Linked DNA regions of Homo sapiens. The protein of the gene in region 1 purifies or fractionates together with the protein of each later gene. This does not show direct contact. Each region holds a gene or a part of one and is shown on either strand. Other genes may lie near its edges. The genes, in order: SLC12A8 and NGEF.

Region 1 (16,246 bases):
CAAACTTTTGTGCAGGATGTACACATCAGCAATATTTATGATAGCAACAAACTGGAAAAATCTAAATACTCATCAGTAAGCTAATCTTTAAATATAAAGTATTTTAAATCTCTAATATGGAATGCTATGTGGGTGTTTTAAAAGAATGAGGACATCCTAAATGTACTGACATTGAAGGATATCCATGATATGTTAAAGAGTGGGGAGTAGCAAAACAATGTGGAATTTAATTACACTTTTACAAAGAGCTGTGCTGTGTGTGTTTATGTACATGCACATGTGCATGTGAGCTTGTGCATGTATACAAAATAGACTGGGGGCCGGGCGTGGTGGCTCACGCCTGTAATCCCAGCACTTTGGGAGGCTGAGGCGGGCAGATCACGAGGTCAGGAGATGGAGACCATCCTGGCTAACACGGTGAAATCCCGTCTCTACTAAAAATACAAAAAAATTAGCCGAGCATGGTGGCGGGCGCCTGTAGTCCCAGCTACTCAGGAGGCTGAGGCAGGAGAATGGCGTGAACCTGGGAGGCAGAGCTTGCAGTGAGCCGAGATCACGCCACTGCACTCCAGCCTGGGTGACAGAGCGAGACTCCGTCTCAAACAAAAAAAGAAAGAAAGAAAGAAAATAGACTGAGAAGCTATGTGCCGATCTCCCTCTGGGGAGTAGGAGTGGGAAAATGGAGTGAAGGGAAGAAACTTTCACTTGTCACTTGATAAATTTCAGGATATTTTATATTTTTATGAAACAAAGACATTGATTTTGTCTTTAAAATAAAAATAAAGAGAAAAATATAGTTTGACTTAAGTGTATTTATAACTGTTTTCTGATTTTAAAATTAACTATTGTGGTTTTTAAATGTGACTTCAAATTCTTTGACACTTCTCCATTGAAAGATATCATCTCACACCAGTTAGAATGGCAATCATTAAAAAGTCAGGCAACAACAGGTGCTGGAGAGGATGTGGAGAAATAGGAACACTTTTACACTGTTGGTGGGACTGTAAACTAGTTCAACCATTGTGGAAGTCAGTGTGGCGATTCCTCAGGGATCTAGAACTAGAAATACCATTTGACCCAGCCATCCCATTACTGGGTATATACCCAAAGGACTATAAATCATGCTGCTATAAAGACACATGCACACATATGTTTATTGCGGCACTATTCACAATAGCAAAGACTTGGAACCAACCCAAATGTCCAACAATGATAGACTGGATTAAGAAAATGTGGCACATATACGCCATGGAATACTATGCAGCCATAAAAAATGATGAGTTCATGTCCTTTGTAGGGACATGGATGAAATTGGAAACCATCATTCTCAGTAAACTATCGCAAGAACAAAAAACCAAACACCGCATATTCTCACTCATAGGTGGGAATTGAACAATGAGATCACATGGACACAGGAAGGGGAATATCACACTCTGGGGACTGTGGTGGGGTCGGGGGAGGGGGGAGGGATAGCATTGGGAGATATACCTAATGCTAGATGACACGTTAGTGGGTGCAGCGCACCAACATGGCACATGTATACATATGTAACTAACCTGCACAATGTGCACATGTACCCTAAAACTTAGAGTATAATAAAAAAAAAAAAATTAAAAAAAAAAAAAGAAAATTAAAAAGTAAAAAAAAAAAAAAAAAGAAAAGAAAAGGTGAAAATTAGGCCGGGCATGGTGGCTCAAGCCTGTAATCCCAGCACTTTGGGAGACAGAGGCAGGCGGATCACCTGAGTTCAGGAGTTCAAGTCCAGCCTGGCCAACATGGTGATACCCTGTCTCTACTAAAAATATAAAAATTAGCCAGACATGATGGCAAGTGCCTGTAATCTCAGCTACTCAGGAGGCTGAGGCAGGAGAATCACTTGAACCCGGGAGGTGGCAGTTGCAGTGAGCTGAGATCCCGCCACTGCACTCCGGCCTGGGTGACAAGCACAAAACTCCTTCTTAAAAAAAAAAAAAATTCATCTTCTCTGTTCTCTCTCTCTCTCCCTCTCCCTCTTTCTCTCTCTCTCCCTGTCTGTCTCTCTCTGATTGTTTGCTCTGGGAGAAGTCAGTTACCCCTTGTCTTAAGGATACTAAAACAGCTCTCAGGAAAGAACCACATGGACCACTGAGGCCTCCTAACAAGAAGAAATACCAACTTGCCAGTGAGATCCTCCAGCCCCAATTAAGCCTTCAGATGACCACAGACCCTGAGGACATCTGACTGAACCTCACCAGAGACTCTGATCCAGGGCCGCCAGCCAAGTCACACCCAAATTACTGGCTTACAGAAAAGGCCAGAGATAACAAATGTTTATTGTTATCTTATGCCACTAAATGTTGGGGTAATTTGTTTGACAATAATAGATAACTAATACGTGGACCAATCTCCCTCTGGAAAGAAGTGGAGAAACTGAGTGAAGGAGGAGACTTTCATTCTTTACTTTACTTTTTACATTTTTACATTATACATTTCAGGATTGTTTGGAATTGTTTCGTTGTTTATATTTAAAGAAATGGGAAGAAATAAAGTTAGGCTTAAGTGTACTTTAAAAAAACTTTTTTTCTGATTTTAAGAGTAACACTGGTCAGGCGCAGTGGCTCACACCTGTAATCACAGCACTTTGGGAGGCCAAGGCAGATGGATCACCTGAAGTCAGGAGTTCGAGACCAGCCTTGCCAACATAGTGAAACACTGTCTCTACCAAAAATACAAAAATTAGCCAGGTGTGGTGGTGCATGCCTGTAATCCCAGCTACTCGGGAGGCTGAGGCAGGAGAATTGCTTGAACCCAAGAGATGGAGGTTGTAGTGAGCCAAGATTGCACCACTGTACTCCAGCCTGGGCAACAAGGGTGAAACTCCATCTCAAAAAAACAAACAAACAAAGAAACCACTGGTGAAAAGGGACAAAGTTGGAGGATAGATGCTAACCAACTTTAAGACTTACTATAAAGCTGTAGTAATCAAGACGGTATGGTATTGGAGACAGAATAGACAAACAGAGCAATGGAACAGAAAAGAGAACCCAGAAACACACAAATACAGTCAACTGATATTTGACAAAGGCACAAAAGCAACTCAATGGAGACAGGAGAGTCTTTTCAACAACTGGTGCTGGAACAACTTGATATTCATGAGCCAAAAAAAAAAAAAAAAAAAAAAACCAAAATAACCTGGACACTCATCTTACACCCTTCACAAAATATTAACTCAATCTGGATCATAGACCTAAATGTCAAACAAAACTTCTAGAATGAGAAAATCTAGGAGTTTGGCAAAGAGATTTTAGGTACAGCACCCAAGGACCCAAGGCATGATCCACGGAAAAACACTGATAAGATAGACTCCATTACAGTTTAAAACTTCTGCTCTGCAAAAGACACTGTTAAAAGAATGAAAGAACCAACCACAGACTGGGGAGAAAAAATTTGCAAAACACACATCTGATAAAGGGTTTGAATCCAAAATATACAAAGCACTCTTAAAACTCAACAGTGGCCGGGCGCAGTGGCTCACGCCTATAATCCCAGCACTTTGGGAGGCTGAGGCGGGTGGATCTCTTGAGGCCAGGAGTTCAAGAACAGCCTGGCCAACATGGTGAAACCCCATCTCTGATAAAAATACAAAAAATTAGTCGGGCGTGGTGGTGCATGCCTGTAATCCCAGCAACTTGGGAGGCTGAGGCATAAGAATTGCTTAAACCCGGGAGGCAGAGGTTGCAGTGAGCCAAGATCGTGCCACTGCACTCCAGCCTGGGTGACAGAACAAGACCCTGTCTCAAAACAGAACAAAACAACTCAATGATAGGAAAACAAACAAACAAACAAAAAAACACAAGTTTTTTAAAAGGGCAAAAGATCTTGACAAACACTTCACCAAAGGTGATATACAGATGGCAAATAAGCATACAAAAACACGTTCAATATCATACGTCATTAGAGAATCGCAAATTAAAACAATGATGAGATATTACTATGCATCTACTAGAATTACTAAAAAACAAAAACAAAAAAACTGACAATACCAAATGCTGATGAGGATGTGGAGCAACAGGAACTCTCATTCATTGTTGGTGGGAATGCAAAATGGTACAGCCACTTTAGAAGACAGTTTGGCAGTTTCTTACAAACATAGTCTTACCACATGCTCCAACAATGATGCATCTAGGTATTTATCCAAATGAATGAAAAATGTATCCTCACAAAAACCTGAACATGGATGTTTATATCAGTTTTATTAATAATTGCCAAAAACTGGAGGCAACCAAGATGTCCTTCAGTAGGTGAATGGACAAACAGTGCTACATCCAGTTTCTTTTTATTCAGTGATAAAAAGAAATGAGTTATCAAGCCAGAAAAAGACATGGAGGAATCTTAAGTGCATATTACTAGTGAAAGAAGCCAAGCTGAAAATGCTACATACTGTATGGTTCCAACTATACAGCATTCTGGAAAAGGCAAAACTATGGAAACAGTAAAAAGATCAGTGGTTGCCAGGAGTTGGGGAGCATTAAAAGGCAAAGCACAGGGAATTTTTAGGGCAGTGAAACTCATCTGTATGATGCTGTAATGCTGCATACGTAACATTGTACATTGTCAAAATCCATAGAATGTATAATACTGAGTGAACCCTAAACTATTAGCAATAACATATCAATATTGGTTCATCACTTCCAGTAAATGTACCACATTAACACAGGATATTAATAATAGGGGAAACTGTGGTGGGGGAGAGAGAAAAGGGGTATGTGGGAACTTTTGTACTATCTGCTTAATTTTCCATAAACCTAAAACTGCTCTAAAAGTGAATTAATTTTTTTTAAAAAAGTAACACTGGTCATTTGAAGGAAAAGTAGAAATAAGATAATTTAGCCACATATAATCTCAACAGAAAGATAGTTGCTATTATGCATAGTTCCTTCCAGTCTTTTTTTCAAATGTCTATGTATATGTCCTCATTTTTTAAGAGTTGAAATCACTCTGTTAAATTCATTTTGAAGGTTTATAGTTTGGTTTCAGTTTGGATTTTTAACCACAAAGAAAATATCCCATATGAAACATCAGTGATACCAAAAACAGATTCTTGAGGAGCCAGTTGCTATGGGAATGATTGAAAATAAATTTCATCTCACACTACACTCTACTAATGTATTGACCAGAAGGAAGGAAAAATATTTGGAGTAACTTAGAAGAGCAGCCAAGAACTTCTAATCAAGAAGAAGGAAAATACATCAGGCTAGTGTGAGGTTTCAAAGAAGCCAGTAGCACGGCCTTGCAATTTCACTAATTGAGCTCTTCCAGCAACCGTGTCACTGGAGGGGGAAGTACAAGGAATCAGGGACCTGAGTGGACTCTGTCTTTCCTTCACTGACAGTTTGATGAGCCAAAGGCCAGCAAGTCTCCCTCCATATGCGGGCCATCTCTGCAGGGTGGTACATGGCCAGGAAAAAAAAAAAAAAATCACTGTTTCCTTCCTGGAGATGCGTCAAATATTTAGCAAGCTGCAAAGCCTGGGCTCCAGGTGATCAGTATGGACATCACATTGGCCCTGAGCATTAGAGTGGGCCCTGGGGTTAACCCTTTAGGTGCCGGATCGTTGGGGCATCTGAAGGTTCCTGGAGAGGGACTAGGATGCCAGAGGGTAGGGGATACTCAGGGAGTTCAGGGGAGTGACAGTTTTCCAACAGAAGATTTTAACATGCTCAGAAGTAGTAAGGCCAGATCAGTGGATGCCAACCGAATGCTGACCTTCCCACAACCAACATTTTTCTAAAAGGCAGGACTGTGTAGGTGCACATCCGGGCTGGCCTCCAAGGGGAAAAGCAGAGTTGCTGTCACAAAAAGACAGCATATCATCGTGCAAAAACAGGCCCCACTTCTCACCTCAGGCAACAGCTTTAGCATCAAACAGATCTCGCTAAATAATTTTTTTTGTATTTAGTAGAGACAGGGTTTCACCATGTTGGTCAGGCTGGTCTCAAACTCCTGACTTCAGGTGATCCACCTGTCTCGGCCTCCCAAAGGGCTGGGAATACAGGCATGAGCCACTGTGCCTGGCCTGGTTTTTTTAATAGCAAGAAAATAAAAGGACACATAGGCATGGGCAAGGACTTCATGTCTAAAACACCAAAAGCAATGGCAACAAAAGCCAAAATTGACAAATGGGATACAATTAAACTAAAGGCTTCTGCACAGCAAAAGAAACCACCATCAGAGTGAACAGGCAACCTACACAATGGGAGAAAATTTTTGCAACCTACTCATCTGACAAAGGGCTAATATCCAGAATCTACAATGAACTCAAACAAATGTACAAGAAAAAAACAAACAACCCTATCAAAAAGGGGGCAAAGGATATGAACAGACACTTCTCAAAAGAAGACATTTATGCAGCCAAAAGACACATGAAAAAATGCTCATCATCACTGGCCATCAGAGAAATGCAAATCAAAACCACAATGAGATACCATCTCACACCAGTTAGAATGGCAATCATTAAAAAGTCAGGAAACAACAGGTGCTAGAGAGGATGTGCAGAAATAGGAACACTTTTACACTGTTGGTGGGACTGTAAACTAGTTCAACCATTGTGGAAGTCGGTGTGGCGATTCCTCACGGATCTAGAACTAGAAATACCATTTGACCCAGCCATCCCATTACTGGGTATATACCCAAAGGATTATAAATCATGCTGCTATAAAGACACATGCACACGTATGTTTATTGCGGCACTGTTCACAATAGCAAAGACTTGGAACCAACCCAAATGTCCAACAATGATAGACTGGATTAAGAAAATGTGGCACATATACACCATGAAATACTATGCAGCCATAAAAAAGGATGAGTTCATGTCCTTTGTAGGGACATGGATGAAGCTGGAAACCATCATTCTCAGCAAACTATCGCAAGGACAAAAAACCAAACACCGCATGTTCTCACTCATAGGTGGGAATTGAACAATGAGAACAAATGGACACAGGAAGGGGAACATCACACACCAGGGACTGTTGTGGGGTGGGGGGAGGGGGGAGGATTGCATTAGGAGATATACCTAATGTAAATGACGAGTTAATGGGAGCAGCACACCAACATGGCACATGTACACATATGTAACAAACCTGCATGTTGTGCACATGTTATCCTAAAACTTAAAGTATAATAATAATAAATAAATAAATATACATTAAAAAAAGAAAATAAAAGGACACATAGAAAATGTGCTAGGCGATGTCTGTGTGAAGAGGAGCTTCTAGCCTCATGAAGCTGCTCCAAGACACACCTGCTCACCTGATCCAGGAACAGCTCACACCAATTGTAGGTAAAGCCTATGGGGGTTAGGGGGAGATGGGGTGGGCAAACTCACACCTACAAACATCTCTAAAGCAGTGAAGATCCATAAGGCCACATACTGGACTCTGAAAGGCTTACCTGGGTCCAGGTGGGTGAAAGAACCCACCACAAAGTCCAGTGTGGACACGGCCAGCAGGAACAGCAACAGCAGCTGGAGGCGGATTATCCATTTGACACCTGCGAGGTTAATGCCCAGCAAGGCCAGAAGCACCGCAACTGAAATTCCTCGCACAGCCCAGATATTCCCGAGGCCCAGCAAATCCGAGATGGATTCAGCAAAGCCGGTGATATACATGGCACCTGCAACACACTGACATGCGATTCCAGGTAGAAGAGTCAGCAGGACAGAAAGCCATGGGCCCATGGGCAGAACCGCCCAGCGCTGAGAACCCTGCACCCCCATCGGACACACTCACTGGCACCAAGGCACAGTGCCTGGGACCAGTGCAGGGTTAAACCAGCCCTTCCCACCCGTGAACCTGCCTCAGGCCCCATTTCTACTTGTCTACATCTCAACTAAAGAATGAAGGAGGAACCCAAGCTGAGAGCTGGCTGTCAGTGATAACAAAGATGAAAAGACTATGGGAGGAAGAAGATGGGACACTGGGCTAAAGAGGCCTCCGGATTTCTCAGTCCGAGTTATTCAAGAACTAAATATAGAACAAGAACACACAGGGGGTCCCATCTACAGAGCCTTAAAAGGACACTGCAGTAAACCAGATTTTTCTTCATTTCTCTATAGGTCAGTATTATTTTTAAAATTATCTAAAACTTAGCAAAAAAAAAAGTGAGTGGCACGTCTTTTTCAACGTCATATGTGGCAAAGGCTACCCAAGGACTATCTAGGTGAATGTACTTCATTTTACTCACTATTTGCTGTTGATTAAATGCATTATATGCCCCAGATTTAATAAAGTTACATGTTACCTTATGGATTTTTTTCCAGTACAGATGCAAATAACTTCTGTCCAGTGGAACATATAACCCAAAAGATTAGGATTTGTTGTCCTGTAAGACATTAACTGATTTTCTATCTAACCCAGCAATCTTATCCTAACATTTATTTATTCAACTGCCTAGTTATGAATTTACTAATCTGACCTCTGTCCACCCAGCATCCTTTGCAGATGCTCTTTAACATCTTACTGGCTCCTCCATTAATTCATAAATTAAATAAAATCCCTGCTCCAGGTTAGGCTTCCTATGAGTATTTGTTATATAATCTTTTTTTAAAAAAATGAAATGAAATCCTTGGCACATGTTTTTCTTATATTTGCCTGAGAATCATGATTTTATCTTTTGGGAAATATTTGAAAGATCATTTCAAATTAAATTGTTGAAAATAACATCAGTCTCACTTTTCCTAATTCCTCAGCCTCAGCCTTCTTCTCTCCTCAGGTTTGTCCTTCACTGCCCCCAGGGCCAGCTGGTCACTCTAATCACTGTAGCCCTGCCCTTGCCATTCTCTGGGAACAAATTCTATTAGGGCCTCATTCGTTCAAGTCCCTCCTTTTCCATGAGGCCTCTCCTCAACCTCTTTTTCTGAATAAATAGTAAGCTAACTGCTAAGGCCATACAATTAATTATCTGGTTCCATATTCTATTATCATGTCATGAACGTAAGTTTGTCTCCCCACCCCACCACCAAGAATGCAAATATCTTAAAAAATTGTTTATGCTGATTGTACCTCTTCAAATACTTGCATTTGCTAAGTATGTTGCAAGCATTCAATAAATACTTTGTGATATGCTGATCATATAAAAGGTGCTCTGGGAAGCAGGCTCCATGAGTTCCAGCCATTTTGTGTAAAGGCAAAAGGGTAATACAACTTCTGGATTTGAAAGGAGCTTGTGAACAAGGCCCCATTCTTCAATGAGATCAGCTCACTTTGCAACTAGGCACATATCATGTTTGTCAGCATCCCCCAAATTTACACTTAGCTTAACAGTTATTCCAGCATCCCATAGTGGTAAACATTTCTGTCCATATTAGGATGAGGTGGAAAGCCCAAGAAATGTGAGGGAAATACAATCATTTCTGAGAGAGAGAGAGAGAGAGAGAGAGAGAAAGAGAAAGACAGAGAGACTAATGTTTTCCTGCATTCATCTCAGAACTCAAACTTCCTCTTTACTAAACACCAAGAGTGTGATGTGTGATAGTGACGTTATTTCATCAGTATTTGGCCAGGTCAACAGGACTCTTCATGGTCAAAATTATCTGAGCAAAATAAAAGTAAATAAAATAAATGACAAAAATGTAGCAATGGATACCATTTATATGGGCACCACTTTCCCAGGTACCTGATGTCTCTGACATGCAGAGGATGATGCCATGGGACCATCTGCATCCAAAGCTTCCAAACTGTTTTTTTTTTCCTAGCAGTAGAACAATTTGCTCACGCAATGTGAGCCAAGCTGTAAATGCTGCCTTTTGTTCCCAGTAACTCCAGTGGATCTCATCCTTCTGGTTTGTATCTAAAATTGCTTTTTAGCCCAAAGATGCCAGCAACAGGGGATGGGGCAGGGTAGGGGGTGGGGGAAGCTCCTCAGGAGGCTTGTAAGGGCATGGTGGTTAGGAGCATGAATTGCGAAGCCAAAATATCTAAGGCCAAATCCTGGCTGACTTGGGAAAGTGTTTTAACCCCTCCGTGAAATACAGATAATGATAGTAACCTTCAAAAGGTTACTGTGAGAACTAAATGAGATGATTTATGTAAAGACCTAGAACAATATCTGGCTCATAGAGTTGTAGAAACAATAGCTACCACCTGTAATCCCAGCACTTTGGGAGGCCAAGGAGAGCAGATCACTTAAGGCCAGAAGTCTGAGACTAGCCTGGGCAACATGGTGAAACTCCATCTCTACTAAAAATAAAAATAAGCCAGGCACGGTGGTGTGCACCTGTAGTCCCAGCTGCTTGAGAGGCTGAGGCAGGAAAATCCCTTGAACCCGGGAGACAGAGGTTGCAGTGAGCTGAGATCACGCCACCGCACTCCAGCCTGGGCAGAAAATAATAATAATAATAATAGCTACCGTCATTATTATGACTTTGTTATTATTCGCTGCTGAAGAAGAGGAAACAGTAGCTAGCTATGAATATCATAAGATACTTTGTTGATGCTAAATAGATGATGGTACCATCACTGGAAATTTGCAATATAAGTTGTAAATAAGGATGCTTGAAACCAAAGAGACTTACTTTAAGGAAAGCAATTAACAGTCCAAAATTAAACCGTCTTCTCACAATGAGTCTGGGGGTAGAAGTGGGGGTGTTTATGGAGAGTAGGAAAGTAAATGTATCATAGAAGTTTAATATTTTGTTGGTAGAGGAGCTAGTAAATAATGTGTCTTGGTTGAGAAGTGTAGAAAATTATGATAGAAAAGGATAAGTTTAATTATGACTTCTGAGGGTAGACTGTCACTACTAGAAGAACTAAAAGCATAGTAGAACTTCCAAATCAACCAAAATGCAATAGAAAAATAACTGACACATGTTGCCAAAGTCAAAAGAAATGAAAAATAAAATTTTATATTTTTTACAAAGTAATGAAAACGAGAATGTTTTATTCAAAAACTCAAGAGGCATAACTAAACTTGGGTTCAGAAGAGAAAAATGTATAGTCTTAAATGATTTTATTAGTTAAAAAGAAAAATAGGCCAGGCGCGGTGGCTCACGCCTGTAATCCCAGCACTTTGGGAGGCCGAGGCGGGTGGATCATGAGGTCAGGAGATCGAGACCATCCTGGCTAACAAGGTGAAACCCCGTCTCTACTAAAAATACAAAAAATTAGCCGGGCGCGGTGGCGGGCGCCTGTAGTCCCAGCTACTCGGGAGGCTGAGGCAGGAGAATGGCGTGAACCCGGGAAGCGGAGCTTGCAGTGAGCCGAGATTGCGCCACTGCAGTCCGCAGTCCGGCCTGGGCGACAGAGCGAGACTCCGTCTCAAAAAAAAAAAAAAAAAAAAGAAAAATAAAGGAACGAAGAATTAACTTCAGTCACAAAAATATCAACATAAATAAAAAGATAATAGAGAGAAGTATTTTATATAAAGAAATATGAAATTAATGAAATAGAAGAAAAAATAACAAAAGAAAAATACAAGAAACAAAAGCTGATCTTTTAAAAAAAAATTAAATAGATAAGCCTCTGGTAGCCTGATTACAAAGAAAAGAGAAAATGCAAAAATATAGACTATTAGGAAAAAAACTACATATACAGAGGAGAGTAAAGAATGAATAGAGGGCCAGGCCCAGTGGCTCATGCCTGTAATCTCTGCACTTTGGGAGACCAAGGTGAGAGGATCACTTGAGTCCAGGAGTTCAAGACCAGCCTGGGCAACATGGCAAAACCTTGTCTCTACAAAAAAATACAAGGCTGGGTGCCGGGTGCAGTGGTTTACGCCTATAATCCCAGCACTTTGGGACACCAAAGTGGGAGGATTGCTTAAGCCCAGAAGTTCAAGACCAGCCTGGGTAACATGTCAAAACTTTGTCTCTACAAAAATAATTTAAAAATTAGCTGAGCATAGTGGTGCACGCCTGTAGTCTCACCTACTTGGGAGGCTGAGGTGGGAGGATCACTGGAGCCCAGGAGTGCCAGGCTGCAGTGAGCTGTGATGGCGTCACTGCACTCCACCCTAGGCAACAGACTGAGACCCTGTCTCAAAAAAAATTAAAAAAAGAATGAATGGAGAATAGAAATGAGCCATAAATTATGGTATATTTATACTATACGATATTAAGTAACCATTTAAAAAGCATTGGTTTAAAACATTGACCAAGAGATATATCTATTACTTAAAGTGAGAACTACAAGCCATGGAATAATGTATGAAATTTGTCCCCATTTTTTTTTTTTTTTTGAGACAGAGTCTTGCTCTGTCGCCTAGGCTATAGTGCAGCGGCGTGATCTCAGTTCACTGCAACCTCTGCCTCCTGGGTTCAAGTGATTCTCCTGCCTCAGACTCCCGAGTAGCCGGGACTACAGGTGTGCATCACCACGCCTGGTTAATTTTTTGTATTTTTAGTAGGGACAGGGTTTCACCATATCGGTCAGGCTGGTCTCGAACTCCTGACCTCATGATCCACCCGCCTTGGCCTCCCAAAGTTCTGGGATTACAGGCGTGAGCCACCGCGCCTGGCCTTGGCCTTGTCCCCATTTTTGTAAAAACAAGCAAGCACTTCAAAAATCCATAAATACATGTGTATAAGCCGAGGGAAATGTTCCAAAAGAGAACACTGGGATCACCTCAAGGGTGTGGGGGAAAGCTCTTTATTTTCATTGTCTCCAATGTGTTAACTGACTACAATGAATATCATTATGTAACTGTCAAAGAATTTTATTAAAAAATACAAGCAAACATATTAAAAGTACCCTTATGTTTACGCAAAAACTAAATCAGGGTATATCATCACCCTGTCTGCCCAGGTTTAGGGAAGCAGCCCAGGACTCAAGGCCTTCGTCCACACACTCAGCAACTGCCCAGCCTTCCCTAGAGCAATCCAGCCACCCCAGAGGCGGTACCCCTTCCAACCTGAATGCTGCTTTTCCTTGGAAAACATTCCTGGTGGTTTGTTTAATGTGTAAATGTCTTAAGGGTTTGTTATACGTTAAACGTATTCTATTTCCTCCTAAATCTTAGACCAGGCATTCCTTTTCTTTTTCATTCTCCACAGAGAAAAGCCTAATTCCTTCTCACAAGACACAGTGGGTGTTGCTCACCATTTTAAAGAGAGAAGGTGGCCTATTTTCAGGGTGTAATGCTTCCATTCCAAGGTAATTCTTTTAGCAAAATTGCACCTTGACAATCACAGGCATTTTCCTTCCACCTTACCTGGAGGACCAGCGCTGCCCCTCAACACCCCTCCCCTTCTGACACAAACTTCCAGGTTTAAGGTTAAAGAGTTGGTGGATTAACACATATGTCCTGAATATGCGTTAACACCCATAACAAAAACTCCAGGCCTATATCAGGTCCATAAAAACTTTCCAGTCATTCATTGTTTTTATACAGAGTCCAGCACAAAGCATGTGAGCCACTAATGAACGTTCTTCCACGTGTCAGCACAGGCTGAAGCTAGACATTTTGGTGTTCAGGGTAAACAGTCACCAAGAACCCTCAGGCCCACACAGGTAAGTGGAGCAGGGAGTGAGGGGAGTCTGTAGTCCATCGTCTCCTCCCCTGACAAAGAGTTTGGTCCCACAGAGCAGGCCCTGCCACCAAGGCCTGAGAGGGATGAAGGGGGAAGGGTTTTGTAGGATGCAGGGCAATGACGAGCCTTTGCAAGCTTTTGTTTTACTTTTTATTATTATTATTATTATTATTTTGAAATGGAGTATCGCTCTGTCACCCAGGCTGGAGTGCAGTGGCGCATTCTCAGCTAACTGCAACCTCTGCCTCCCAGGTTCAAGCAATTCTCCTGCCTCAGCCTCCCAAGCAGCTGGGATTACAGACGTGCGCCACCACGCCTGGCTAATTTTTGTATTTAGTAGAGACAGGGTTTCACTATGTTGGTCAAGCTGGTCTCGAACTCCTGACCTCAGGTGATCCACCTGCCTTGACCTCCCAAAGTGCTGGGATTACAGGCGTGAGCAACCACGCCCGACCTGCAAGCTTTTAAAATCATTACTTTAAGTGTTAATATCTCCTCAGTTTTGATGCTCTAGGGAAGGGATTGACAAACTGGCTCACTGGCCAAATCCTTTTTGCTGATTATTTTGGTAAATAAAGTTTTATTGGGACACAACTATACCCGTTTTTTGTAAGCCATTTATCTGTGGCTGCATTCACACTACAGTGGCAGGGTTGAGTAGTTGTGACAGAGCCATATGACCCTCAAAACCCAAAATATTTATGATCTGGCCCTTTATAGAAGTTTGCTGACCCCTGCTTGGGGGTAAAATCAGGGAATCTGTTTTGACAATCATTAGAAATAAATGAATGCACACATGCCCTGGAATGAGGGCTGAGGGAGTTAATAAGAACAAGGAATAGGGAGCCTCAAAACCCCAACCGCACCCTAGAGGAAGGAGGAGCTCAAATCAATAACCCAACCTGTCACCTTAAGAAACTAGGGAAAGATGAGCAAAGTGAACCCAAGCAAGCAGAAGAAGGAATCAATAAAGGTCAGAGCAGAAATGAATTAGGGATCAGAAAAACAATAGAGAAAATCACCAAAACCAATAATTAGTTCTTTGTAAACACACCTTTATCTAAGCTGATCAAGAAAAAAGAAAGAGAAGACATTATTTAAATTAGGAATGAAAGGGGAGACATTACCACCAAACTTACACAAATAAAAAGGACTATAAGAAAATCTATAGACAATTAATATGCCGATGCATTAGATAACCTACGTGAAGTGGACAAATTCATGGCCGAGCACAGTGGCTTACGCCTGTAATCCCAGCACTTTGGGAGGCCGAGGCGGGCGGATCACCTCAGGTCGGGAGTTCAAAACTAGCCTGACCAACATGGAGAAACCCCATCTCTACTAAAAATACAAAGTTAGCCGGGTGTGGTGGCGCATGCCTGTAACCCCAGCTACTCGGGAGGCTGAGGCAGGAGAATTGCTTGAACCCAGGAGGTGGAGATTGTGGTGAGCCGAGATCACGCCATTGCACACCAGCCTGGGAAACAAGAGCAAAACGGCGTCTCAAAAACAAAAAACAAAAAACAAAACAAAATTCCCAGATTAAAAAAAAAAAAAGAAATGGACAAATTCCTAGGAAGATATAAACTATCAAAACTAAATCAAGAAGAAGTAGAAAATCAGAATATGCCTATATAAGTAAAGAGATTCCATTAGTAACCAAAAAACTTTCTATCAAAAAAAACCCAGGACCAGATGGCTTCATGGCAAAATTCTACCATATGTTTAAAGAATTAACACCAACCCTTCACAAACTCCTCCAAAAAATAGAGAAGGAGGGAACACCTTCCAACTCAGTCTACGAGGCCAGAATTAGCCTGACACCAAAACCAGACAAAGAATCACAAGGAAACTACAGACCAATATCCCTCATGAATATATACACAAAAATCCTCCACAAAATGTTAACAAACCAAATTCAGCAATTTATAAAAAGGATTACACACTAACCACACCCTGATCAGGGACTCCTGGCCCGCGCCAGCGACAAACAAAGCACAGGCACTCCAGAGACAGTGACCAGGGGGACTCTAATGTTTGGGACCAGGGCCCAAGTGGAAAGGCAGGAAAATAGCTGGGATGCTGGTGCAGTGGCGTCTCAGGCCGTGGCTGCCAGCACTTAGAAAACATCTTATCTGTGAACATCTTTTTTCCAAATCAGCCCATGTAAGTGGGACTCTCAGCAGCACAGATGCCTGTCTTTGTCCAGGGGTGTTCACACCAGTGCCCATCCATGGCATCTGCCTCTAGAGGCTCACTTGGTGTCTGTACCGAGAGGGGGAAAGCAGGATTTTGCCTACCTTGCAGCCTGGTTGGCTATAAAATAGCAGAGAAGTAAAAAAAAAAAAAAAATTTATATACCAAGTCCCCAGGGTAATAAAGTAAACTGACCATTTATTACTCCCCTCTCCAACTACTATACTTAAATAACTTTCTGCAGTCAAGGCAAGTGCTTTTTAAGAGTGCAGAGGCCATCTGTTTGCCTTTCCTGCACTGTCTTAGACACACACAGGCACCCCCACCGCCCACACATGCACACACGCAGCTCTGTGCTGTTCGAGAATCAGATATATTTATGCTGAAACACCCTGCTCCTGCTGCCTAAAAATAAAAGAAACAAAACCGATGCTTTCTCTGGGGAGATTCTTGCACACTCTAACTTAGACAAATTCTTCTCTTTAAACTGTTTTTTCAACCACCCACCACCATTTGCACTCTCATAAAAGCCTTTTTCAATCCAAGAAA
Region 2 (16,246 bases), on another chromosome or scaffold:
CAGCGGGCTGGGCTCGGGCTCTGGCTCTGGAGTCCGACTTCATCATCATTGTCTGCAGAAGGAGGATAGCCTTTGAGGGGTTTCTTCTTAACTGGAAGCCTTTTAAAGTCACTTCCGTGCATCCTGATGCCTGCAGTGTAAATGACTGCACCAGCAGCAGGCACCGAGGCAACTTTGTGACCTTGCTGTTGAGTCATCCTGGGGAACAGAGGATGTGAATCACCCCAGGGCGGCTGCAGCAAGAGGACTCTGTGGGGCAGGAGCAGAGAGTGGAGAGCTTGGGAGCGCCCTGCGCCCCTGGCTCTGGCTCTGGCCCCAGCTGCTAGAGGAGAGAGAGGAGTGGGCCATGGTGATCCCCGTACCACACACACCCCAGCCACTGCCCTGCCGAGGACAGACTGAGGCCGGGTCTTCAGCGGCCCAGGTGGCCCTGATAGCTCCCAGCAGCATACTGGAGACACGGAGCCTGGATGGTAGGGCCTGTGCTGAGGTGTCACGGCGACGTCCCCACAGCCTCTAAGGGAGTCCCGGAAGGACGCCTTAGACCCTTGGCATTCTGCCTGGCCTTCTCTTCATCCCCTCCCTCCCTCCAGGCAAAAGCCAGTGAACTAAGTTGGGCTCCAGGCCAGTGCCCTGATGCCCAGGACTGGGGGTGACCTGTGTGGGGAGGGCCTGGCACACGGGTGGATGGGAAGGGACCTCGCAGAACCCTTGTGGGGAAGGGGCTACGTTTTGTTTCCTGGCCGTGAGGAAGGTGGAGGGCAGCCAGTGAGCCCGCCCTTCAGTCCACGGTCTGCTGGCCTTTGGCTCCGACCCCCGCAGATGTCACCCTGGTGACGCAGCTGCAACAACGCATCGAAGGTCACAGCATCAGAGACAGCAGTGATTTGTTAACACAGGGGTCGGGAGAAGCCAAAAAAACAACCCAAATCAGGCTGGAATGCACGGCCCAGAGGTCCACGGCGAACCCTGGATCATAAGGAGACCGTGTAGGTAAAGAGCGGGGAGGAGAAATCGCGCAGCCTCGAGCTTTGCTGAGGGTGGGGAACGCAGGGTTGATCCGAGTGCGGAGGCAGGAGTGGGACTCCGAGGACAGACACTGTAGTCCCGGCCGGCCAGGCAGCATGGCCCATGTTTGACCGTGAACTGCAGGACAAGCTGAACTGCCTTAAGTAACAGGGAATTGGGGCCCGCGGGCTGCGTAAAAGCCCGTCGCTCTTTGGGTGTTAGAGCTGGTAAAGCTTCCGCCTTTCTCCATCAGGAGCAGGTTGGCTTCCTGCAGACTTTTCTTGGTGTCCTGGTTCCTCTTTTGTGACCTCTTGCTGATGGGTCTCTTTTGTTTTTCAAATGTGTGACTTGAACAGGGTGGTGTAGGCGGCCCTAACTCCGGGACCTGGCTGATCTGAGGCCGCCGGACGTCACCACCCCAGAGCAGCCCCGTGGCCCGCGCTGCCTGAGAGGGGGCCTGCTCACCTGGCTTCAGGTCCTGGTCCTGGCCCCACGGGCAGCGTGGCTCCCAGTGCCTCTGTGGGTGATTGTGTGAGAGCATGTGTGTGTGTGAGTGAATGTGTGCATGAGTGTGAGAGCGTGTGTGTGTGAGTGAATGTGAGTGAACGTGTATATGAGTGACTGAGAGCGTGTGTGTGAATGTGAGTGAACGTGTATATGAGTGACTGAGAGCGTGTGTGTGTGAGTGAATGTGAGTGAACGTGTATATGAGTGACTGTGAGAGCGTGTGTGTATGTGAGTGAACGTGTATATGAGTGACTGTGAGAGCGTGTGTGTGAGTGAATGTGAGTGAACGTGTATATGAGTGACTGTGAGAGCATGTGTCTAAGTGAATGTGAGTGAACGTGTATATGAGTGACTGTGAGAGCGTGTGTGTGAGTGAATGTGAGTGAACGTGTATATGAGTGACTGTGAGAGCATGTAAGTGAATGTGAGTGAACGTGTATATGAGTGACTGTGAGAGCGTGTGTGTGTAAGTGAATGTGAGTGAACGTGTATGAGTGACTGTGAGAGCGTGTGTGAGTGAATGTGAGTGAACGTGTATATGAGTGACTGAGAGCGTGTGTGTGTGAATGTGAGTGAACGTGTATATGAGTGACTGAGAGCGTGTGTGTGTGAATGTGAGTGAACGTGTATATGAGTGACTGTGAGAGCGTGTGTGTGAATGTGAGTGAACGTGTATATGAGTGACTGTGAGCGTGTGTGTGTGAGAATGTGAGTGAACGTGTATATGAGTGACTGAGAGCATGTGTCTAAGTGAATGTGAGTGAACGTGTATATGAGTGACTGTGAGAGCGTGTGTGTGTGAGTGAATGTGAGTGAACGTGTATATGAGTGACTGTGAGAGCGTGTGTGAGTGAATGAGTGAATGTGTATATGAGTGACTGTGAGAGCATGTGTGTAAGTGAATGTGAGTGAACGTGTATATGAGTGACTGTGAGAGCATGTGTGTGAATGTGAGTGAACGTGTATATGAGTGACTGTGAGAGCGTGTGTGTGTGAGTGAATGTGAGTGAACGTGTATATGAGTGACTGAGAGCGTGTGTGTGAGTGAATGTGAGTGAACGTGTATATGAGTGACTGTGAGAGCACGTGTGTAAGTGAATGTGAGTGAACGTGTATATGAGTGACTGAGAGCGTGTGTGAGTGAATGTGTGTATGAGTGACTGTGAGAGCATGTGTGAGTGAATGTGAGTGAACGTGTATATGAGTGACTGTGAGAGCATGTGTGTGTGAGTGAATGTGAGTGAACGTGTATATGAGTGACTGTGAGAGCATGTGTGTAAGTGAATGTGAGTGAACATGTATATGAGTGACTGTGAGAGCATGTGTGTGAAAACCAAAGGAGACCCCTGACCCATCAGCAAGAGATCACAAAAGAGGAGCCTGAAGAAAGCCCAGGCTGGACCGGAGTTGAATCTTCACAAGGAATCCAGGCCAGGAATGGGCTTAGGAAAGCCAGGAAGTGTGACGTGAATACTGGCAGATAGCAACAGAGCTGAGAGCGCCATTCCCAGACCAAGCAGAGATTCAGACAGCCGGGTCCAGGCTACATGCGCATTCCCTGAGGAGGAGCTTCTGTAGTGACACGTACGTTCACACGCCCCCCTCATATGCACACATTCACACACACAGTCACATACTCTCATTCACACACATTCACACTCACCTTCATACACATTCACCCACTGTCACACACTCTCATACTCTTTCACACACATGCACACATTCACACCCACCTTCATACATACTCATTTACACATTCACACACAATGCATTTACACACACATCCACACATCCACACCCACCCTCATATTCACTCACACATGTTAACACACATACACCCATTCACACTCACATTCACACACACACATGCATTCACACACACATTCACTTACATGCTCTCACAGCCACACCCATATACACATTCACCCACAATTTCCCACACATGCACTCTCATTCCTTAATGCTCACACCCTGACTCGCGTATGTCTATGCACACATACACTCATTCCCACTCGCCCTCACAGGCTCACACTTCCTTCCACTACCCTGGGACGAAAGTGCCATGGGAAGCCAGTCTTGCTGTGTTCACAGCCGAGTGCCCAGTGCCTAGACCAGTGCCTGGTGCTCAGCAGATGCTCAGTGAGCATTTGTGGAACGAAGGAACGAACGAGTGAATGAATGAAGAGCGAGCAGAGCCTGGATCCCTCGTCAGCTCTATGCTGCCATGTAGAGGCTTAAATGAGAGCAAAAGTAATATCGATAAGGAAAAGATAGCCATATCGACATGACAAACAATTTGACATACAAAATGAAGACAAACATCCTGGAAGCTAAAATTCACAGGTGACGTTGCCTGTAAATGGATGAGGAGGGGTGAGAGTTCTGGGGAATGAGCCTCAGCCATACCGATTAGCAGGGATTCAGGCCAAGGCCCACAGCTGAAAGGCCCTACCTGCCATTTCCCCTGGCCCTGAAGATCAGGACAGAGATGCTGTCGGCCAGAAGATCCGGGTGATCCAGAGCCAGGGTGTCATCCCAGGTGTCTCTAGCAGGCATCCTTCAGGGCCATGTGGTTTAATGGCATGCTTTTCTGTGATGTGGCGCTGTGGGCATGGGGGTTTTCCCCTTGGTATCATTCGTATCAGTTTTGTGAGTTATGTTTGCTTGGAACTTGTGAGCTGTAACTGCTTCACATTTTCTTAGGAAACTTAAATTTAGCAGCAGGAAAATGAATTCATAACAGCATCTGTAGCTGAGAAGCTTCTGGGAAACTGGCTGCCCGTCATAGCCTCACTTTTGTGTCGGTGGACACTGGCCGACTCGGGGTCTGCTGCCAGTCAGCGCTGGGCTGCAGGTCTGCTGCTGTGAGGCCCGCTGCTGTGTGCTTGCTGTGGCTGCTTTTTAGGTAGATGAGGCAGATGCGACGTGGGGATGGCCACGGAGAGGCCACAGGCTCATTTCAGCGTCTCGTCTCTGACCGTCGCTGTCTCAAGTGAGGTGCTGCTGTGTGCTTGCTGTGGCTGCTTTTTAGGTAGATGAGGCAGATGCGACGTGGGGATGGCCACGGAGAGGCCACAGGCTCATTTCAGCGTCTCATCTCTGACTGTCACTGTCTCAAGTGAGGTGCAGACACTGGGGGCCGGGTGGGCCCTGGCTACTGATGGTGGTTCGGGGTCTGCAGTTGGCCGCTGGCCCTGGAGTGACATCAATGTGAACTCTCTGTGGGGTGTTCCCAGCTTCCAGATTCGTCCCTTATTTTAGAGTGCTCTGCCAGGTGGGTGGGTGGGCAGAGCTTTGCAGGGAAGCAGCAGTGAGAGCTCCTGCAGGCGGGCATCAAATGCCCAGCAAACCCCTGCGCTACCTGGGAGGTGGCAGCATCTCCACTCCTCCAGCATCCAGCCATGTGACTTTCTGGATGCAACTTCACTTCTCTGTGTCTGTTTCCTTTTGGTAAAATGGGAGCTTCTGTCTGTCCTTTCTGGGGGACCTGGGAGGATTAAGTGAAACAGCCTGCAAAACCCCACCACTCCAGGGCCCACTGTGTTCTGGGAACAAATGCCTCTAACCCTGGAGCTCCTGCTTTCATGCCAAAGCCCTGGGCCCTGGGTCAGGGCTCTGATGAGTGGAGAAACCGGAGGGCGGCCCTAAAAGGAGTGAGGCAGGGGATGGGCAGGACCCTGGGGAAGGGGCCAGACCCCCACCTCCACCCCCTACCCCATCCCTACCCTCACCCCTTCCCCCACCCCATCCCAACCCTCACCCCTCACCCCACCCCTACTCCCACCCTTACCCCTAACCTCACCCCCACTCCTACCCCCACACTCGCCCCTACCCTCACCCGCACCCCTACCTCACCCTTAACCCCACCACTACCCCCATCCTCACCTGTACCCTCACCCTCACCCCTACCCTCACCTCATCCCTACCTTTACCCTTACCCCCACCCTCACACCTACCCACACCCTCACCCCTATACCCACCGTCACCCTCACCCCCACCCTCAACCCTACCCTCACCCTTACCCCTACCCTCACCCCTACCTTCACCCTCACCCCTACCTTCACCCACGCCCCTAACCTCACCCTCACCCCTACCTTCACCCTCACCCCTACTTTTGCACTCACCCCTACCCCCACCCCTACCCCCACCCCCATCCCTACCCCCACCCCCACCCCTACCCCCACCCCAACCCCTACCCTCACCCCCACTCCTACCCTCAACCCCAACCTTACCCTCACACCCCTACCCTCACCCTCACCCCTACCTTCACCCTCACCCCTACCCCACCCTCACCCCTACCCTCACCCCCACCCTCACCCTTACCCCAGGCTCCTCACTGCTCTGTTTCCACCCCTCCTCTGTGGCCATAACAAATTACCAGAAACTGGGTGGCAGAGGATCACAGGATTGATTCTCCCACAGCCTGGGCAGGCTGTGCTCCCTCTGACAGCTCTGCAGAGGATCCTTCTGGCCAACTCCAACTGCTGGTGGCTGTATCAGTCCCATCTCTGTCTGTGCCTTCTCTGTGTGTCTGTGTCACATTATTAAATCTCCCTTGGCCTCTTTTATAAAGACACCCATTATTGGTTTGGGGCCAACCTTAACCCAGGATGATCTCATCTTGAGCTCCTTGACTCAATTATGTCTGCACAGACCCTTTTCCCAAATAAGGTCCCATTCACAGGTGCTGGGGTTAGGACATGGATGTAGCTTCTGTGGGGGCCACAGTTCAACCCACTCTGCTGTCCCTCCTGGGAAGCGACTGTGGGACCTGAACCCGCCCTAAGTATCAGAGGGTGACGGGGAAGAGGAAGGTGGGTCATTGGGTTGATTTGTAAACAAGGGAGGAAGGTGAGCCGGGATCTGCCACCTGCCCTTACAGAATGACCCATGAGATGCAGAACTGCTGTTAGATCCTAGTCAGCTATTCAGAGGCTCAGCAATCAGGTGATAATCATGACATCGAATAAAGGCACCTCCAGAAAATTGATCAGGTTATGGATTTCTTTCTCTCTTCCAAAATGAAAATCACCTTATTGGTTCCATTATAAAATCAGACCATGATATATGTTCATTGTTAAATTATCAGGCGATTCAAAAGGTAAAAAGGTAAACATCCCCCCAGATTCCACCCGTGACACTCGTGCTTGACACTGGCCGGTTTCCCCTGACGCTTTTCTGCTGGGCGTGGAGGAACAGGATTCCTCCCACCTGCTGACTTTCGCACCCACTAGCACACCCAGAGCATGGGCCAAGCCACCCTTGGCAGCTGTGCGGGCTCAGGTGTGTGGCTGACCTTTTTTTTTTTTTTTTAAGACAGAGTCTCACTCTGTCACCCAGGCTGGAGTGCAGTGGCGTGATCTGGGCTCACTGCAACCTCTGCCTCCCAGGTTCAAGTGATTCTCATGCCTCAGCCTCCCAAGCAGCTAGGATTACAGGCATGTGCTACCACACCCAGCTAAGTTTTGTATTTTTAGTAGAGACAGGGTTTTACCATGTTGGCCAGGGTGGTCTTGAACTCCTGACCTCAAGTGATCTGCCCGCCTCGGCCTCCTAAAGTGCTGGGATTACAAGAGTGAGTCACCACGCCCAGCCTGACCTCTCTCGTTTTTGTCTTGTTTCATATTTTGGATCTTAGGCTATCTCCAGTTGTCAGTATGGTAAGTGTTCTCTCACAGGGAGTAGCCTCCGTGCCCTGTCACCTTAGGGGTAGTGTGCTCCCTAGGAAGAGTGGCCTCACTACCATTCCCGGCCGCAGGTGTTACCAGCTGCCCCTGCAGCAGCCATCCCAGGCCCCAGGAGCAGGCGATTTTTCCCTTTCAACTCCCTGCTGAGCCTCCCTCTGCTCCTCTGTCTCAGCCAAGGCTAGCGCCTTCGTGGAAGGCCAACTTCAGGCGGTAACCATGGGGTCTCCCTGCTACAGGCCATGTTCGAGCTGGTCACTTCCGAGGCGTCCTACTACAAGAGTCTGAACCTGCTCGTGTCCCACTTCATGGAGAACGAGCGGATAAGGAAGATCCTGCACCCGTCCGAGGCGCACATCCTCTTCTCCAACGTCCTGGACGTGCTGGCTGTCAGTGAGCGGTGAGGACGGGGGGGACAGCCACCTCCCTCAGGGCCCTTCTTCATCCCCAGGGCACATGCTTGAGACACTGATGACAAGTGCTCGATACTGGCTTCTCTACTTCCAGATGTTTGGAATGTTCCATAATAAAATATAAATAAATGAAGAACTAAATCCAAACCTCACCACCCCTTCTGGCAGGGTGGCCAGTCACGTCCCCCGGCGTCCCTTCCCATGAGCACCTGTGCCCCACACAAAGCTCTGCGCTGAGCATCCTGCTGGCCCCAGGTTGGAGTGACGCTGAGTCCAGCTCTCTCATGCATCAAACCGGTGGTTGGACAGGTTTAAACCAGGCAGGTCCACGGGAGTCTTGTGACAGGGACAGAAGGTGTCCATGTAAGCTGCTCCTTACCCTAGCAGAAAGCCCCAGTGGCGCATGCAGGGCCTCAGGCCCTGTGCAGGGTGCAGCCCTGGATTCCCACATCCTCACCTCCTGAGTGCGTTTTCCACAGCTCTGGGAGCTGTGCTTCCAGCAGGGACTGTGTGAAGCCTGGGCCGAGCTGCAGCGGAGGAAGAGTAGACAGACATCTGCCCATTGAATCCTTTGAAAAGGAAAGGAACCAAATCATGTGGCCAGGATGAAAGAGCACTTACCATCCCCAGGGCAGGCCATGGAGTTTTGCAGCCAGAAGCCACATGGGGCTCAGCTGGGACAGTGCCTGGTGATCAGATGGGAAACCAAGGTGGGGCCCGGCGCAGCCCCGCTCTGAGCAGTGGGGATCCGCTCAGCATCACATGTGGCACCCTGGGAGCTGCTCACTCTCTGTGGGCCTCCAAGTGGGTCTCTCCTCCACACTGACACTCTCACTTCTGTTTGCAGCCCCCTCACCCCTTCGTGGCAGCGCCTTCTGGTGGGTTTGGGAGGTGATGGCTGACTGGGGCCAGAGTGGCCTGTGAGACCCCTGGGCTTCTGCTGCGGCACTTCTTTTTTATTTTTTTTGAGACAGAGTTTCACTCTTTTTGCCCAGGCTGTAGTGCAATGGTGCGATCTCAACTCATGGCAACCTCCGCCTCCTGGGTTCGAGCGATTCTCCTGCCTCAACCTCCCGAGTAGCTGGGATTACAGGCGTCCACCACCACACTCGGCTAATTTTTTGTATTTTTAGTAGAGACAGGGTTTCACCATGTTGGCCAGGCTGGTCTCGAACTCCTGACCTCAGGTGATCCGCCCGCCTCGGCCTCCCAAAGTGCTGGGATTACAGGCGTGAGCCACTGCGCCTGGCCCTGCCACGGCACTTCTGTCTTATGTATTTGTATTTTACTGTGGAAAATTCCAAACATGCAGAGGTAGATGTCCATGTGCGCTGCTCACCAGCGTCAGCAGTGGTCAGCCCAGGGGCCAGTCCCTACCCCCCAGGGGACCCTTCTGAAGCAGATCCCCATGGTCATCTATTTTATCCTCAAACACATCAGCACATACCTGAAAGATAAGGTCTCTTGGTGCTCCCAGCACCATCAGCCCCGTGAAAACACAGTCATTCTTCAAGATGACCAAATACACCACCAGTGCTCGGTGCCCCTGCCGATGGATCTTGTCGGCCTGTACGCTCACCGTGCACACTGCTATGTCCAATGTCCAAGTCAGGCTCGCATGCTGCCCTTGGTGAGACAATTCCCCACCCTACCCCCCGGGCACCCTCCGCCTCAAGCCGCTGCCTCTCGTAGGTTCCTCCTGGAGCTGGAGCACCGGATGGAGGAGAACATCGTCATCTCTGACGTGTGTGACATTGTGTACCGTTATGCGGCCGACCACTTCTCTGTCTACATCACCTACGTCAGCAATCAGACCTACCAGGAGCGGACCTATAAGCAGCTGCTGTGAGTGTATCCGGCAAGGGGCTCAGGGGCAGGGGGAGGTGCCCGGGGCAGCCATACCAGTGCTGGCCCAGGCTCCTTACACGGTGACACTTCATGGTCCTTTACCTCTGCGTTCCCAAGGTCCACATGAGCCACCGGAGTTGGCCAGGGATACTGGTGACAGTGTCCCAACCCAGCACGTTCTAGGGTGTATTGGTGTCACTAGAGAAACATTAGCCCAGCCAGACCCCAAGAGAATCAGCGTAGCATCCACTGGACCTGGATCCAATGGCTGAGCAGAGCACTGTGCAGTTAGAAAAGAGAGCTTGAGGTCAAGTGAGGTCATGTGGACAATTCAAAGCCCAGGACATCAGAGACGGGGCTTGAACTAGCGACAAGGGCAGGGACAGGATGGGAAGGAGCCTCGGTGGGGCTCCTCCAGCAGCGCCGGGGCATTGATTGCTAATCTGCCCATTTTGTAAACTTTCTCTGAGGTTTAGTTGACAAGGTAATTTTCCAGCCAGCGTGCCTCTTCTGAATTCTGCGCACTGAGGTTCGCACTTCAGTGCCTGGGGTTAGCCAGGGAGGCCGTCTTGGCTCCGCACAGAAGCACCCAGGGAGTTTTCCAGTTGTGGCGTCTGCACATTGCGCCTCACTGGCTTTTCCACCAAGACATGGAGTTCATGGTGCACGTTTCAAGCCTGAGTCTTTGGGCATTTGGATGTTTTAACAGTTGGTGAAGGAAAATTGGAATTGGAGGGAATGAGGATGCAATTTTTGAGGATAAACATTGAGAAGGCAAGCATGTGGCAGATTAGGAATCATTCACAGCACCCAAGAGCCTGCCGCTGTGGCCCCCGCCAGGCCGTGTGAGCACAGAGGCTGAGTGACAGGCTGAGCACCTGTCCCTGCCGTCCCTGCTGTCCCTGCTGTCCCTGCCGTCCCTGCCATCCCTGCTGACATGCATGGGGCCGAGCTCACCTCCAGCTCTCCCAGCCCTCATCAGCGCTGTGGCCCAGCCCACCGCTGAGCCCACCTGTCAGAAATAGTGCAGGCTGTCCTGGTGGTGTCTCTAGCCTGCTGCCCGTTCCTGTCACTACGTGGGTTTACCTTGCCACAGTTTCCCGCTGGGTGAAATCATCTAATTGTGCATCTGATTCACAGACTTGGCCACACAAGGAATCCTTATCCTCCCACACACAGCAGCATATTGTGCCAAGTCTTCAAGGCCAGGCATGTGAAGCCACTATTGTTATTTGACTTTTACGTGAACAGTCTATTTTCCTTTTGAAAAAAAACAAAGAAAGAAATCAACATGTTTTCTGAGCCCGTGGGTCGTCTGGATCCTGGGAGGCTGTGGATGGGGAGGAGGAGTCTCCAGTTCATGCCTCCTGCAGCTCAGAGACCTACTCCACCTGTCTGTGTCCCCAGCCAGGAGAAGGCAGCTTTCCGGGAGCTGATCGCGCAGCTAGAGCTCGACCCCAAGTGCAGGGGGCTGCCCTTCTCCTCCTTCCTCATCCTGCCTTTCCAGAGGATCACACGCCTCAAGCTGTTGGTCCAGGTACAGCCTCCTCCACCTGACCCACAGACGGGGCTTCCCAGGCTTTGCTGTGGTCATTCCCGGGCCCTGTCAGCTTTCTAGGAGGTCTACTGGTTCAACAGATACTAAGCTCCTCCCATGTGTGCCAAGCACGTTCCTGGGCAGTGAGGATGCAGCGCCTGCTCCCAGGGAGCCCATCGCAGAGGGGAGAGACCGAACCATGCACAGCCAGGAAGTGGGCATGGCCCTGGGGACAGCCAAATGGGCCGACACGACAGGGGTGGCTGGCTGGCCACTGCCAGTTGCAGCGATGGGGGCGGGTCAGGAAAGACACGTGACGTGTAAGCTGAGACCTGGCTGACAGGGAGGAGCTGGTGGGGGCAGGTAGAGGAAAGAACATTCCACGCAGAGGGAACCGCTTGTGCAAAGGCCCCAAGACTGCAAGGTTCATGGACAGAAAGGCCAGCAGCGATCTCGGGAACATGACGGGGACGGGAGTGGGTGTGGAGATGGGGACAGAGGCAGTTCCAGGGAAGACATTGGGTCCTGTCCTCAGTGTGATGGGAGTCACCTGATCGGACCCACTTTTAGGAGCTGGCCCTGGCTGCTCCAGAGGGTGACGGAAACGGGGAAGGGGTTACACTGGCCTGTGGGGCTGGGTCGGGGAGTGGGGGCCCGGCAGGGATGTCAGGGAATTGAAATCAGTGACTTGCTGAGAGAAGGACTGAGAGTGATTCCTCGGCTTTTACCTTGAGCAGTTTGGGGGTGTGCAGCCGTTGCTGAGATGGGGACGTCTTGGGGCGGGGAGGGCTCAGGATTCAGGGCAGGATGAACTGAGTTTGAGATGACTTTGGACAGTTCAGTGTCAGAGGTCAGAGTTAAAGGGAGAAGTTGGGCAGGACTCGCTGGCATCAAGGTGGTAATTAACCGAAGAGGCCGCCAAGGAAGGAGAGAAAGGTGCCTGAGACCAAACTCAGGGACGCAGCCAGGCCTGGGAAGGAGCAGCGGTGAGGGAGGTGGAAACCCACAGAGCTGGAGGCATGGGAGACTCAGGGGGATGGGGCTTCCAGAAAAGGGAGGCTCCAGCCAGGCCCAGAGGCAGGCCCAAGACCCCCTCCACCTGACAGGCCCAGTGAGGCAGGACAGAGACCCCCTCCACCTGACAGGCCCAGTGAGGCAGGACAGAGACCCCCTCCACCTGACAGACCCAGAATCAGGACTGAGACTCCCTCCGCCTGACAACCCCAGTGAGACAGGACAGAGACCCCCTTTGCCTGACAACCCAGTGAGGCAGGACCGAGACCCCCTCCACCTGACAGGCCCAGTGAGGCAGGACAGAGACCCCCTCTGCCTGACAGATGCTGGGGCCCTGTCTACTGATGCCCTGGGCAGAGGGAGCCATTGGCAGCTGGGCTGGTGAAGTGGACGGTATAGAGTGCAGCTGTGGCCCTGAGGAGCATGAGCTGAGGGGGACCTGGGAGCCACAGGTAGCAGAGGTCAGAGGTCAGACAGGTGAGAGGCCAAAGACCTAGGGGCAGCTACTCCAGAAAGAGCAGAATTACAGAGAGGAGGCCTGACCCAGGAGGAAAGGGTTTGGGAGCATGAGGCCAAGGAAGCAGTTGTCAGGAGAAGCCCCTGGCCCAGGGCTAATGGAGATACGAACGTGAGGGCAAAGCCGGGATGGCGACCCCAAACCGGAAGACACCTGTGATGAACGCAGTTCCGTGGGAAATATTTTTTTAACTTGGAAAAAGTGAAACAGAAGACAGTAACATTTCCTAATTATGCAGTGAAAAATATTTTAGGACATTTTATAGGGAAAGTGCATATATGAATATATTAAAACCTTAGCTTCTATAAGATGAAAACCAACAGTAAGATTAAAAGCAATGGAAATGCAGTGATTAGGAAATGGTGGAATGGGGACAGCTGGGGTGGGCACTCAGGGAAGGGCTCAGAGAAAGGGGTGGCGGGTCAGGGACCATTCCAGAGAGAACGGCAAGTCTCCACATCAGGCAGCATGCTGGGGACACACCGAGTGGAGGCTGGCGTGGGAGAGCACGTGCCAGGCTAAGGAACCCATACTGCCCTCCATCTGAGGCCACCAATGCCACCTGGTCAGATGCAGCTTTTATGCCTGTGAGAAAAGATGGCGTCTAAACCGTGCTGTTCAGCAGGGATTTGGAAGTAGGGGGACAGTTAATGACAGGCATGGTGGCCACATACAGGATGGAAAAAGCAGGAAGGTGGCTGTGGGTCTCGAAGGTCTCTGGCTTGGCTGCCAGGCAGAGGCGGGCAGGTGACCACAGGAGAGGCCTGGGCTGCTGTCAGGGGAGACATCTGTGCTGCCGTGGCACCCAGCAGCCGGGAGGACAGGTGGTTGGTGCCCAGATGCACCCAGCCTACTTACAGGACAAAAGCCAGTCAGAAAACGTGGGCATGGTGGGGACCGCTAAGAGGAAACCATGTGGAGTTTATAGAGCAATGTCAAAATCGTAATTTACAGGTGAAAGCAGTATGGGCATAATTTTTTGTTAACTGAAGAAAATTGAACAGTTGGAGAAGAGACTCTTTCTTACACTTTCATGGAGAAGACCAAAGTTAACAAAGTTTCGGGGCCAAATGACAGTCCCAGGGAGGAGAGGGAAGCCCTTGGTCCCCCTACCCCTGTCCCGTAAGCATTTAGCTCCCCTTGGGGACAGAGCTGACCCTAAGCGTGACAGTCCTCACTGCTGGGTGCCACACCTGCGGGCTCTCTTGCTCTCCATTTGTCAGATGGAGGCTGTGTGTATGTGTGTGCGTGCATGCGTGTGTGTGTGCAGGTATGCATGTATGTGCATGCATGTATGTGTGCGCACACATGCTTGTATGCATGTTTGTACACGTGTGTACATGTGTGTGCACTGTGCTTGCAAGTGTGCATGCATCGTGTTGTGCATGTGTGAGCATGTATGCACGTGTGTGCATGCATGTGTGCACGTGTGCTTGTATGCATGTTTCTACACGGTGTGCATGTGTGCACACTGCTTGCAGGTGTGCATCATGTGCATGGTGTGCATGTGTGTGCGAGCATGTATGCACGTGTGTGCACACGCAGGTCTGTATGCATGTGTGCATGCATGTATGCGTGTGCGTGCGTGCGTGTGTGTGTGTGTGCATGCTGCAGCATGGGGCTGGACTGGTGCAGTAGGGAGGTAGTCACGGTCAAGGTGGGAAATGGGAGGAAAGACCAGAAAAGATTAAAGTTAACGCAGCCTTTCTCTGTGCATAGAACATCCTGAAGAGGGTAGAAGAGAGGTCTGAGCGGGAGTGCACTGCTTTGGATGCTCACAAGGAGCTGGAAATGGTGAGTCTCACCTCCTCTTGTGCTGTATCCCAATGCACTGTTTTCCTCATCCAGGCACACCTTTCCGGCCCTGCTCCCCACATGTCCGTGTGTCTTTTTAGAATATGCAAATTTATTTTAAAATTCACTTTTGCAATCAAAAGAGTCACTGGGGCTTAAAAAAATACACCAGGCATGGCTTGGGTAGAGAGCCTTCTTTACCCTGCTTCCTGGCTCCAGCCTTACGTACTCACCGCCTGTCTTGTTACTGTGCCTGGCATGGATGTGGGGACAGCAGCGTGGCTCTCAGGACATTCTTCACCAGTGTGGAGCTCTGCGATCATGCACAGGCCCTGATTCCTCTCATCAGCTCCCTGGGATTGTTCTTTGCAGGCATCTGGGGCCCACACAGACCCCAGGCTTGTCTTTGCCTGTTTTTCCATGTCAGAAACAGTCTCTCCTCCCTCCTGTGAGGCTCACCGAGGCTGGTTCCCACTTTCCCTGTGCCCTGATGAAGCCCTTTGCTCCGAACCCAGCCCTCCACGCCACTCTCCCAGTCCCCGGAGCTCAGTCACCCCTGTGCATCTCTGTGAGGGGATTCACTGGCCCTGCCCAAGAGCCCTGGGCCTTTGCTGCCCAAGAGTGCAAGGACCATCTCTCCAGACCATCTCCTGACCCTCAGAGAGAGACGGCTCCTCCTAGAGGTTTGCAGCAGAGCAGGGGTTTTGCGGGAAGGGCCAGCGAGTATGTTTCAGTCCTCAGGAGCTCTTACCATGCGCTCTGCCACGTTTGGCTCCTGGCATCAGCTGGAGCTGAGAGCCAGCTTTTGACAGCTGTGCTAGGGCACCTCCATTGAGCCAGTGACGCCGTCATGGTGGAGAGCAAGGCGGGGGATGTCCATATTCCACTTCTTTGTCACCCCATGGCAGAAGCTTAGTAAAAAGAATATCACTCTCAGTGGGCATCTGATGGTCATTCTCAGCCACATTGAGACATGAGGACTTCCTACCCTATTGCAGTCGGTTCCCACCTCGGGCCACTCCTCCTGTCCCTTTCCCAGACCAGTTGGCCACCAAAATTCCTCTGGCAGTTACACGCTGTGCCTAGTGAGGAAAGGCTGGAGCCTCAAGCAGGGTAGCCAGGGGGCATCCGCGACCTGTGAGCCAGGCAGCATCTCTAGGGGCCCATGCCCACCTCTGGAAGCAGAGCTTCCCTTTTACCTGATTGGATGTGAGTTCATTCCAGCCACCACCAGACAGCAGCCACACGGGGCCACCATGGCCCGTGAGGGGCCCACGTGCCCCAGAAGGCTCTCCCTGAGGTCAGCCCTGGGCCAGGGGTATGTTTTCTGTTTTTAAAGTTCTTTTCTGCTTTCATCTTCATTTTTCTTATAATGAAAGGTATTCTCTGTTTCTAATAGCTTTTTTTTTTAAAAATGAAGGTTTATTTTTTCTCTGATTTATGAAAGTAATTATACTCAATACCAGGAAACTCAGAAAATGCTTGTAAGTAAAAAGAAAATAAACTTCACTAGCCACCTCGCCCTCCCTGCCGACAGGCTGCAGCTCGCCCTAAACAGACGCCTGTGCACACACACCTGTGCACAGCACACTCGCAGGGCACACACTGCACACACGGCACACGCACAGCACATACACGCCCATACATATCACACACAATACACACCGCACACACATGGCCCCTCATCACACAGTACACACTGCACACACACACAGCACATACCACACACAGTACACACAGCACGCACACACACATACACGGCCCCTACATATCACACAATACACACTGCACACACACACAGCACATACTTATCACACACAGTATGCATAGCACACACAGCACACATGGCACATACATATCACACACAGTACACACCGCACATGCATACACAGCACACACTGCATATACACAGCACACACATGCA

Evidence for each region.
Region 2: the proteins of SLC12A8 (region 1) and NGEF purify together in Homo sapiens (affinity purification with mass spectrometry; 2 studies listed by BioGRID and IntAct, with this or other methods). This does not show direct contact.

Annotation. Positions count from the first base shown.
Region 1 is NC_000003.12:125,170,315-125,186,560, forward strand, and holds part of SLC12A8 (solute carrier family 12 member 8), read right to left. Parts: intron 7,661-16,246; coding exon 7,429-7,660; intron 1-7,428. UniProt on the Homo sapiens protein: Cation/chloride cotransporter that may play a role in the control of keratinocyte proliferation.
Region 2 is NC_000002.12:232,886,109-232,902,354, reverse strand, and holds part of NGEF (ephexin-1), read left to right. Parts: intron 1-807; exon of another isoform or gene 808-993; intron 994-7,438; coding exon 7,439-7,599; intron 7,600-9,304; coding exon 9,305-9,457; intron 9,458-10,867; coding exon 10,868-10,997; intron 10,998-14,247; coding exon 14,248-14,322; intron 14,323-16,246. UniProt on the Homo sapiens protein: Acts as a guanine nucleotide exchange factor (GEF) which differentially activates the GTPases RHOA, RAC1 and CDC42. Plays a role in axon guidance regulating ephrin-induced growth cone collapse and dendritic spine morphogenesis.